2 linked regions of the Homo sapiens genome follow. The protein of the gene in region 2 purifies or fractionates together with the protein of the main gene of each other region. This does not show direct contact. Each region holds a gene or a part of one and is shown on either strand. Other genes may lie near its edges.

Region 1 (4,451 bases), on a different chromosome or scaffold from region 2:
AGCCGTCCACCCTGTGATTGGGGAACTCCCTGGTACAGTTTAGTGCAGATCTGAAGCCCAGACAACTCAGAGAGGTGCCAGGGCCACCATGGTGCAGACCCACACAACCATGACATTTTGTCTGTCAGTTACATTTATTGACCTCTCCACCCTCTCCTGCTGGCAGCCTCCTCCCGAACAATCAGCAAGGAGCCCAAAATACCCAGATCCTGAGACAGCAGAGGTGGCCAGGGGCCCTGGACCATTTCTTCTGAACCTCTCCCATTGCAGATGGGGAAACAGGAGGCCCCACAGGGGATGCCTTATCTACTACTTTGTCTTCAGTGTACCTTTGAGGATGCTAAAAGCCAGACCTTAGTTCTAGGCCAGGACCACTCATGATTGCTAGCAAGCCAGCCCATGAGGACCATGCGGGCCCCGATCCTTGCCTCAGTGGCCCCACAGAGACCCCTAGCTGCCTTCAAAAATGTCCCAATACTGTCTTCCTCTCTTCTGCCCCTCAGTCAAGCTAGTCACTCAAAATGTGAGTCTTCCTGCCAGCTGCAGCTCTACTGAGCACCTGAAAGCCCAAATTTGACCGTGTCTAACCCCTCCCCATAAAGGCTCAACTGCTGAGCAGCATTCCAGGCTGCTGGTCCAACCAGAACCTGCTTCTCCAGCTTCCACCTCTCCCCCTCTGTGGTTCACATCCTCCTATCCAGGCCTTTTCCCACCCTATGCCCCACTGCCTTGTGTGACTTGGGCTTTTGGTACTTGAGCAGGAACCTCCCACCCTCCTGGTGGCCATCACCTTGATCAGCCTTCCCAGCACAGGGGTGGGTCCCTCAATCTCTACATACTCCTAGAGTATGTAGATAGTACTTTCTGTCCCTAGAACCACACCCTTGGCCTGTCCAGTCCTGTAAACTTTCAGCAGATTGGGCTGAGCTGGGTTCAGGGCTGGGACAATCAAGACAGCCTTCAGGGGCTCTGAAAGGGGATGACGAGGTCTCCAAAGCACAGTATTAGGCAGGGGTGGGGTGGCTGCCTGTCCTGCCTCCCTGGGTCTCACTGTTTCTCCCTGGAAGACCTCAGGCCAACTCTGACCTAGGCCCCATGGCTTGAGACTGCAATGTGTCGGGGTACGGGAGTCCCTCAGGGAGCCAGGGTCAGAGGGCAGAGAATGGCAGGGGACGAGAGCATGGTGGCAGTGCTGCATGTGAGGGTCCAGGGCCTGGGAGGAGTGGCCATGATGCTCAGGCTTCCCATGCCCCTCTCAGAGCTTCTGCCTTGGTCGGTTGTGCCAGCTCTGAGCAGGAACACGGGTCAGGGACAGTCCAGCCCCTTGCCCCAACCTAACTGGGTCAGGGCCCCAACCCTGTCCCCCACTGAAGGCAGGTCGGGAGCAGCCACACCTGCCAAGCCCTCTCCAGGGTCCATAGGTAAGTGATGCCCAGGTCCTGCAGCAGGGGAGAAGGTTGTGGGAATGTGGAAGGCCGGTGTCCCTGGGAAGAGGGGGTCTCATGTGCACCACCACAGAGACCCCAACTTATGCCCAACTAGCTGTGAGGGCACTTGAGAGTGCTGGGGGTGAGGGGCTCCCGAGGGCTGCTTAGGCTCAAACAGTCCCTGGGTGGGCATGGAACTGCCACTCCTCTGGAATTCTGAAGTAACCTGGAGGGCTGAGGGCTGGTGGTTGTGACATTGGTGGGGAGTACAGGGAGTACACCTTGTTTGCCAAGCTGACAGGGATCATTGAGCTGCCTGACACCATGCTGCTCCCAGACCCTGCCTGACGTACCCCAAGGCCATTGCACAATGGGCCTCGAGTAGACATCTGTCACCATCACGGCTTGATCAGCCAGTCACATGCCCTATCACAAGCTCACATCTGAGGCCCTGTAGGGTGGTGCCCACCTCACCTGCAGCCTCCATACCCCAAACCCGCTGGATGCCTGGGCCCAAGGGCGTGAATCACTGTCTCTACCCCCACAGGTCTGCCTGTGCTTTGCTCTTGTTTGCTCTGCTGGAATGCCCCCATCAGGGGCATCAGCACCCTTTGTAAGACCCATTCCTGTCTGGTGCCTCTCACCAACCGAATCAGGTGAGGGCATGGGTTCCGGAGTCCAGTCCCCGTTCTAACTCTCAGTAGCTTGTTACTTAACATTAACCTCTTTAAAACCATCCCTTTGCTTCTTGGGTAAAAGTTCTCCAGCCACACCTACCCAACTCGAGGTCAGGGTAAGGTGAGTGGAGTTCCAGATCCAGGGGCTCTGGCCTGCCCGAGCTCCCTGAATTCCAGGCAACAACCCCCAGCCCCCTCTGTGAGTGACAGTAAGAGGCATTAATGGACCCCAGGGAAGAGCTAGGAGCAGGAAGGGAGAGAAGAGCACAGCTCAAGAGTGGGTGACTCCTCTCAGTCAGAGCTGCCTGGGCGGTAGTGAGCACTCCATCTTCAGGGACAGACAAGCAGAAGTGGGACAGGGTGGTGTTTATGTGGAATAGCCTATCCCAGGCCTAGGGGGTCCCCCCATTCAGTATCAGGACGGGGAGGACAATGTCAAGCTAAACGTGACTTCTGGCTACATCACCAGGACTGGAGGTCAGGCTTGGAGGATGTTAGGCCATGGGATGAAGCAGGAAGATGGGACTTTGCTGGGGCAGGGACAACTGAGGATAGTGGTTTGAGTGCCTGGGTGGCTGGGCCAGTCTCTCCCACTTACCTGGAGAGGGGGTGCTGAAAGGGTGGACCTTCTGATCTCCATGACACCCACCCTGCCCCAGGGCCTGACCATCCCCTTGTACTATTGTTTTTTTTGTTTTTTTTTGAGACGGAGTCTCGCTCTGTCGCCGGCCCAGGCTGGAGTGCAGTGGCGCGATCTCAACTCACTGCAAGCTCCGCCTCCCAGGTTCACACCATTCTCCTGCCTCAGCCTCCTGAGTAGCTGGGACTACAGGCACTCGCCATCACGCCTGGCTAATTTTTTTTTTTTTTTTTTTTAGTAGAGATGGGGTTTCACTGTGTTAGCCAGGATGGTCTTGATCTCCTGACCTCGTGATCTGCCCGCCTCAGCCTCCCAAAGTGCTGGGATTACAGGCGTGAAACACCGCGCCTGGACACTATTTTTTTTTAAGCAAGGAAAGCATAGATTTATTGAAATGAAAGTACACTCCACAGAATGGAAGTAGGTTCAAGCAAGCGGCTCAAGAGCTGACCAATCCCTTTTACTATCACTAAGGAAAATGGGAATTTCCTTCTAGGGTCCCCATAGACCCCATGGTAACTGACCCTGTTTCTACGGGGACCCCACACTTCCCCATCAGCTCCCCAGTTGTCATAACAACTCCAGGAATCACCAGTGCCCACCCAAGCCTGGGCTGTGTGCTCATCTCCCTATCACTACAGGCCCTTCTCCTTCAGGTGCCTTGGTAATAGAGGCAGGGGACCAAGCACCAAAGAAGTGACTCCACCTTCCCTTTACCCATTTCAGGAAGGTAAACTGAAGCCCAAAAAGGATATGACCAGATAAAGCCAGGTGCGGTGGCTCACGCTTGTAATCCCAGCACTTTGGGAGGCTGAGGCGGGCAGATCACAAGGTCAGGAGTTTGAGAGCAGCCTAGCCAACATAGTGAAACCCCGTCTCTACTAAAAATACAAAAATTAGCCGGGTGTGGTGGCACACGCCTGTAGTCTGAGCTACTCGGGAGGCTGAGGTAGGAGAACTGCTTGAACCCGGGAGGCAGAGGTTGCAGTGAACTGAGACCATGCCATTGCACTCCAGCCTGGGTGACAGAGTGAGACTCTGTCTAAAAAAAAAAAAAAAAAGGAATATGACCAGGTAAAGTACCGGGGGAGTGGAGGGCCTGACCAGGTTTCTGAGAGGCAGTAGAGATCATCAGTTAGGGAGAGGGAACTCTCAGGGAAGTGTAGGCAGGACGAGGTTGCCTCCAGCCTGACCTAACCTCCCTGAACCCTTCTGAGGCCTCAGTGGCATAGCTGGACAGGTCAGCTTCTGCTCCCTCCTGTCACCTGAGGGTTTGTTCTGCCCTGAACTTTGTGACCCTGAGTGCCCTTCCACATTCAGTGCCCCCTCACTCTGTGACCCCATTCACTGGAGGGGTTGCTGAACATCACTGCTGCTCCGGCCTGAACAGGGGCCACTCATCTGCATGCTATGTGGCATTAACTTTTATGGGCTGCCCAACCGCCAGCCTGTCAGGTGCTGTCCCCAGTCCCCCAAGACTCTCCTGCCCTTCCTATGCCTACCCTGGGGGAGCTCTGGTGGGCTCTGAGTCCTCTAGATGAGCCCCCACCTGTCCACCAGGCCTGCTTGACTAGCTCTGCCCTGCCCCAACTCCTGACAATTTGCTTCTTGTCCCACTGCTCCTGCTGTTTCTTCCTCTCAGCCTTCAAAGCCCAAACTCAGCCTCCTCTGGGGTGACTTCCTGACTGGTCACTGCCATGGGACCCA
Region 2 (5,403 bases):
CCACTCAGATAGTCACAAACCAAGCCCTGGCAGCCACCCTGCGGGTCAAGAGAGGGTCTAGGGCTCGGAAGGCTGCCACTAAGGCTCGGGCAACTGAAAGCCAGACTCCAAATGCTGACCAAGGGGCCCAGGCCAAGATAGCCTCTGCTCAGACCAACGTAAGTGCCCTTGAGACTCAGGTTGCTGCTGCTGTCCAGGCCCTGGCAGATGACTATCTGGCTCAGTTGAGCCTGGAGCCCACAACCAGGACCCGGGGCAAAAGAAACCGAAAGGTGAGATCTCTGACATTGCCATCCTTAACTTTGTGCTTCTTTTCCATTTCTACCCTTCTAGTTTGTTCATTTCTTCTATAAAAGTTTTACTTTGAGCTAGTCCCTGTGTTCAGATAGGCTGTGGAAGATGCTGAGAAGAAGGTGATATAGTTTCTGCTCCCTAGCAGTTCACAGATTGGTGAGGAAATAAGACATCCATACACTCAGCTACAACCTGTATGTAATACTACTTGTATTTAAATAGTAGTTACCACGTGCCAGGCTTTGTGTTGGGTACAGTTACACAGGGTATGTCTGAATGTCTTGAAAGTAACTCTTACCAACAAGGGATCATAGGTCCCAGTTTTACACTTAAGAAAACTGAGTCTCAGAGAAATGAAGTGACTTGTCCAAGAGGTACCAGCCAGCATAATTGGTGGTAGCCAGAGGAAGAGAAAGACCCTTAGGCTCTTATCTTGAGTTGTTCCTGGCCTGGCAGAGGAACGAAACTCCTTCCTGGAAGACAGTGAAAGATAAGCTCAGGACTCAGGGTGGCCAATGGCAAGGTCAGGATCAGGCTCCACTACAGCAAGGCTGAGGGAGGGGGTTAGAGGGACTTTCTGTCTGGAGCAGGCAAGGTGAGGAGACAGAGCCATCTCTTTCACCTGGTGACTCTGGACCTTCCTTCTTTCTGATGATGAAGTCCAAGCATCTGAATGGGGATGAGAGAAGTGGCAGTAATTACAGGCGGATCCCATGGGGCCGGAGGCCTGCACCACCGCGAGATGTGGCCATTTTACAAGAAAGGGTAAGAATCCAATGCTGTCCAGTCTCTTCTCTTCTTCACTTGCCCTCTTCTCTGCCTCCTTCCAAGTTTTCTGCAAGCATGTTAAGATCTCTCCATCTATTCCTCTCCTCCCAGGCTAATAAGTTGGTGAAATACCTGTTGGTTAAGGACCAGACAAAGATCCCCATCAAACGCTCAGGTAGTGTCCTACCAACCCTCCTCCTTGAGCTCTCCTCTCCACTCCCCTCTCCTCCCATAGTCTGGGAGTAACACTTTATGGCCTCTTTGTTCTGTCATATCTCCACACCTGCCCTCCTTGCACTCTGCCATGGCTGGCATCTCCCATTAACTCACTTCAGGTCTCTGATTGCACTGACCCAACAGGACTGGCAAAAGGGCTGCAGCTCTGTGGCCCCTGCTAAGCTCAGCTACTCTCACCTCTCCTTTTCTACAGACATGCTGAGGGATGTCATCCAAGAATATGATGAATATTTCCCAGAAATCATTGAACGAGCAAGCTACACTCTGGAGAAGGTGAAGGGGCAGTGCTGGCGGATGGGCGCAATGGGGAAGCTTTGAATCGAGCAAAGACATACATGTCCCTTTTGGAGAGAATCACAGAAACATGCTAATCCAGCCCCATTACTGTGTGAATGGGCAGACAGTGGCCTAGGGAGAGGTGTAGATTTGCCATGGGTCACACAGCATGTCAGTGATGAAAACATGGCTAGGACAGAAGCCACTCAAATTAGTCTCAGCTTCTATTCATAGTTGGACATATTCTGCATGTATTTCAGATCTCACCTCTCCCTTGTATCCCCATTTTCTGTCTCCCTAGATTCCTGCTCATCACAAAGATGATGTTGATGACAATAGTACATTTGCTGTGTGTTTACTGGGTGCCAGGCACTTGGCTATGTGCTTTATGTGCATTATCTCACTGACTTCTTACACATGCAGACCCCCTAAGTACACTGGGAGTTTTAGGATGCCCGGAAAGTTCACTGATACCTAAGCTGAATTTTGTGATCTCACAGGCTATTCTTTTACTTGGCAGATGTTTCGAGTCAATCTGAAAGAAATTGATAAGCAAAGTAGCTTGTATATTCTCATCAGCACTCAGGAATCCTCTGCAGGCATACTGGGAACGTAAGCTGGGAAAGGGCTGGAGTGGGAAGGAAGCTTCTGCTTTTATCTGTGCTGCTACCCCTTCTTTGTCCTACTTCCCCCATCCTCTTAGAGAGTCAGGAAAAACAGGGTCTCAAAAGCCCTGTCTCAGCACCTGCACATAGTTGGAGCCCTGCTCACAGTAGTGGCACCTGATTATGATTGACTGAAGGGTATAGGAGCCTAGGGTGGGACATTCCTGCTGTCAGGTTTGCTGTCTCTGTAGAAGCTTCCCAGGAAAGCAGGCCTGTCATTGCTTGCCTCTTCCGATGGAGTGCCTGGCCTGGCTTTGACAGAGTGGTTCTCAAGGAGGGCTTCCTGGTGTGGCTGGATCAGTATGCATGAAGCGCAAGAGTGTCAGTGGGGCTGAAGGTTCTGGGAGAGAAAGAAGGGACTCACATTGACTGAGTGCTTGTGTTGTACCAGGTTGACAGCCATTCTTCCATCTTCTTGGCAACCTGAGGAAGGGAGAATATGATTTTCCCATTTTACTGAATAATAGACCAAGGCTTGCAAGGTCTAAGTGCCTTGCCCAGGGTGGCATAGAGCTGGAAGCAGAGACTGGGCAGAATTCTGTATCTGAGGAATCTGGGAGAGGTTAGCCTGGTGAGCTGGCTGGTGTATCTTTTGCGGATGGCTGCTGAAACATAAACCTTCTTTCTGTCCTGTTGAAACATAAACCTTCTTTCTGTCCTGTTATTCCCTTAGGACCAAGGACACACCCAAGCTGGGTCTCCTCATGGTGATTCTGAGTGTCATTTTTATGAATGGCAACAAGGCCAGTGAGGGTGAGTGGCTGGGCATGCAGCTGAATGGGCGGCCATGGTCTGGATTCCATGTGTTCAATTTCTGTCCCTGTCTCCTCTTGCCTCCCCTCACAGCTGTCATCTGGGAGGTGCTGCGCAAGTTGGGGCTGCGCCCTGGGTATGACTGGGCTCTCTCAGCGCTTGCTGTCCGTGTTGTCCTTTGGCAAGAGAGGATGGTCCTAGGATTGCATCAGTCTGGTGGTCTGGTGGAGCGGGTGGGGTGCTGGACTGGGTAGAGGGCCCAGGGTTCTGACCTGGGTGGATGACGGGCAAATGGTCCTGAACTCTCTGCTGTCTCTCTCCTTAATGTCCTCTGTCTGTTCTAAGCTGAGATGTTAGATAGACCTTCAGGGATCCCTGACAAAGAGGCATCTGGTCTTAACTGCTTGCTTCTAGTGGCCATGTGCTCATTACTTTCTTCACTTCATTGAGACTGCCCCATGTGCTAGAGAGGTCTCTTCCATGTTGGGAAATGCCTCTGCCCTCATCTGGGCAGTTCTGATCTGTGTTCATGGGTTATTTTTCCCATTGTCAGGGTGAGGCATTCACTCTTTGGGGAAGTGAGGAAGCTCATCACAGACGAGTTTGTGAAGCAGAAGTAAGTGGTGTTTGGGGCTTTGTCTGGCCCTGAAGTGTTCTGGGTATACTGATCTGGTTCAGAAAGTGCTTAGTCAGTGCCTTTCTTATACTAGCTTTAGAGGGATGGGCATCCTGTGTCCTAGAACTGATACTGTCTAAAATTCCCATGGGCAGACCTTTCCAGGACTGGGCCAGACTCAACACAAGGCCCTTGCAGTGGGGTGCGCTCAGAGCAGAGGGCCTTAAGAATGGCTCCTCTGTTTACAACACACCCAACAGGAATCTGGGCTTACTCCTCACAGGTGGCATGATACTTTGGCCTTCCTGTGACATCATGCCCTATACATGTCTCCCCTGGAGAAGCCCAAGGGACTGCTTTGCACAGGGCCAGTGGGAAATGGCTCAGTATTGGAGGCCAAGACCATAAACTGTGTTTGGTAGTGAGTCTGGGGCTGGAGGGTCTTAGAAATCCCTCTCCAGGGGCTGTTTGTATTTGTTTGGAGGAGGTTGCCACCTGGTGTCTAGTGCTTAGACAGCAGGGTTGCTTGGTTAGAAACAAGTTTCATTTCCTTTTTCCAAGGTACCTGGAGTACAAGAGGGTCCCTAACAGCAGACCACCTGAATATGAGTTCTTCTGGGGCTTGCGCTCCTACCACGAGACTAGCAAGATGAAAGTCCTCAAGTTTGCATGCAGGGTAAGAGGAGAGCTGCCCGAGCTTGGCATATTAAGGCAATGGGATACCCTTGGCTGGGGCAGGCAATGCACAGGGATGGGCAGGTACAGAGCAGCCTGCAGCTCATATATAAACATGTGGAGCCTCCTTTATGTCCCAGGGTGCTGCTAGATATATAGTTTACATCATCTCATTCATTCTTCATACTTTGTATTAATCAGCATGGGCTGCCATAACAAAATACCATAGACTGGGTGGATTAAAAAACAAATTTATTTTCTCATAGTTCTTGAGGGCGAGAATCCTAGGTCAGGGTCCACGAGGGTCAGTTCCTGTTGAAGGCTCTCTTCCTGGCTTGCAGATGGCTGCCTTCTTGCTGTGTCCTCACATGGCTTTGTGTGTGAGAGAGAAGAGAGCAAGCTTTCTGGTGTCTCTTCTTATAAGGACACTAATCCTGTTGATCAGGACCCCACCCTTATGGCCTCATTTAACCTTAATTATCTCCATAAAGGCCCTATCTCCAAGTACAATCACACTGGGTGTTAGGGATTCAACATACGAATTTGGGGGCGGGCACAACCCTTCAGTTCATAACATATTTACGCTCTATCATTTCCTGTAATTATAAAGACACTTAGGCTAAGTGAGGTTAAGTAACTTGTCCAAGGTCATATAGCACGTAAGTCAGCAGAGCTGAAACTGGAGTTCAGAACTGACCCATGATAGAGCCCCAATAACTGAGAAGTTTAAAAAAGTATTGCTACTAGTTTAATACAAAGCCCGTAGGTTAATACATGATTACTAGGGTTGTTTTCTTATTATGATTATCATCCCCATTTCAGGTGCAGAAGAAAGACCCCAAGGACTGGGCTGTGCAGTACCGCGAGGCAGTGGAGATGGAAGTCCAAGCTGCAGCTGTGGCTGTGGCTGAGGCTGAAGCCAGGGCTGAGGCAAGAGCCCAAATGGGGATTGGAGAGGAAGCTGTGGCTGGGCCCTGGAATTGGGATGACATGGATATCGACTGCCTAACAAGGGAAGAGTTAGGCGATGATGCTCAGGCCTGGAGCAGATTTTCATTTGAAATTGAGGCCAGAGCCCAAGAAAATGCAGATGCCAGCACCAACGTCAACTTCAGCAGA

The links. Proteins that work in one complex are often made in the same cells at the same time.
Region 1: the proteins of TRO (region 2) and NBEAL2 purify together in Homo sapiens (tandem affinity purification; one large-scale study listed by IntAct). This does not show direct contact.

Annotation. Positions count from the first base shown.
Region 1 is NC_000003.12:46,982,666-46,987,116, reverse strand, and holds part of NBEAL2 (neurobeachin-like protein 2), read right to left. Parts: intron 1-4,451. UniProt on the Homo sapiens protein: Probably involved in thrombopoiesis. Plays a role in the development or secretion of alpha-granules, that contain several growth factors important for platelet biogenesis.
Region 2 is NC_000023.11:54,923,497-54,928,899, forward strand, and holds part of TRO (trophinin), read left to right. Parts: coding exon 1-272; intron 273-954; coding exon 955-1,059; intron 1,060-1,173; coding exon 1,174-1,237; intron 1,238-1,492; coding exon 1,493-1,572; intron 1,573-2,095; coding exon 2,096-2,187; intron 2,188-2,913; coding exon 2,914-2,993; intron 2,994-3,086; coding exon 3,087-3,129; intron 3,130-3,546; coding exon 3,547-3,609; intron 3,610-3,808; exon of another isoform or gene 3,809-3,939; intron 3,940-4,170; coding exon 4,171-4,285; intron 4,286-5,106; coding exon 5,107-5,403. UniProt on the Homo sapiens protein: Could be involved with bystin and tastin in a cell adhesion molecule complex that mediates an initial attachment of the blastocyst to uterine epithelial cells at the time of the embryo implantation. Directly responsible for homophilic cell adhesion.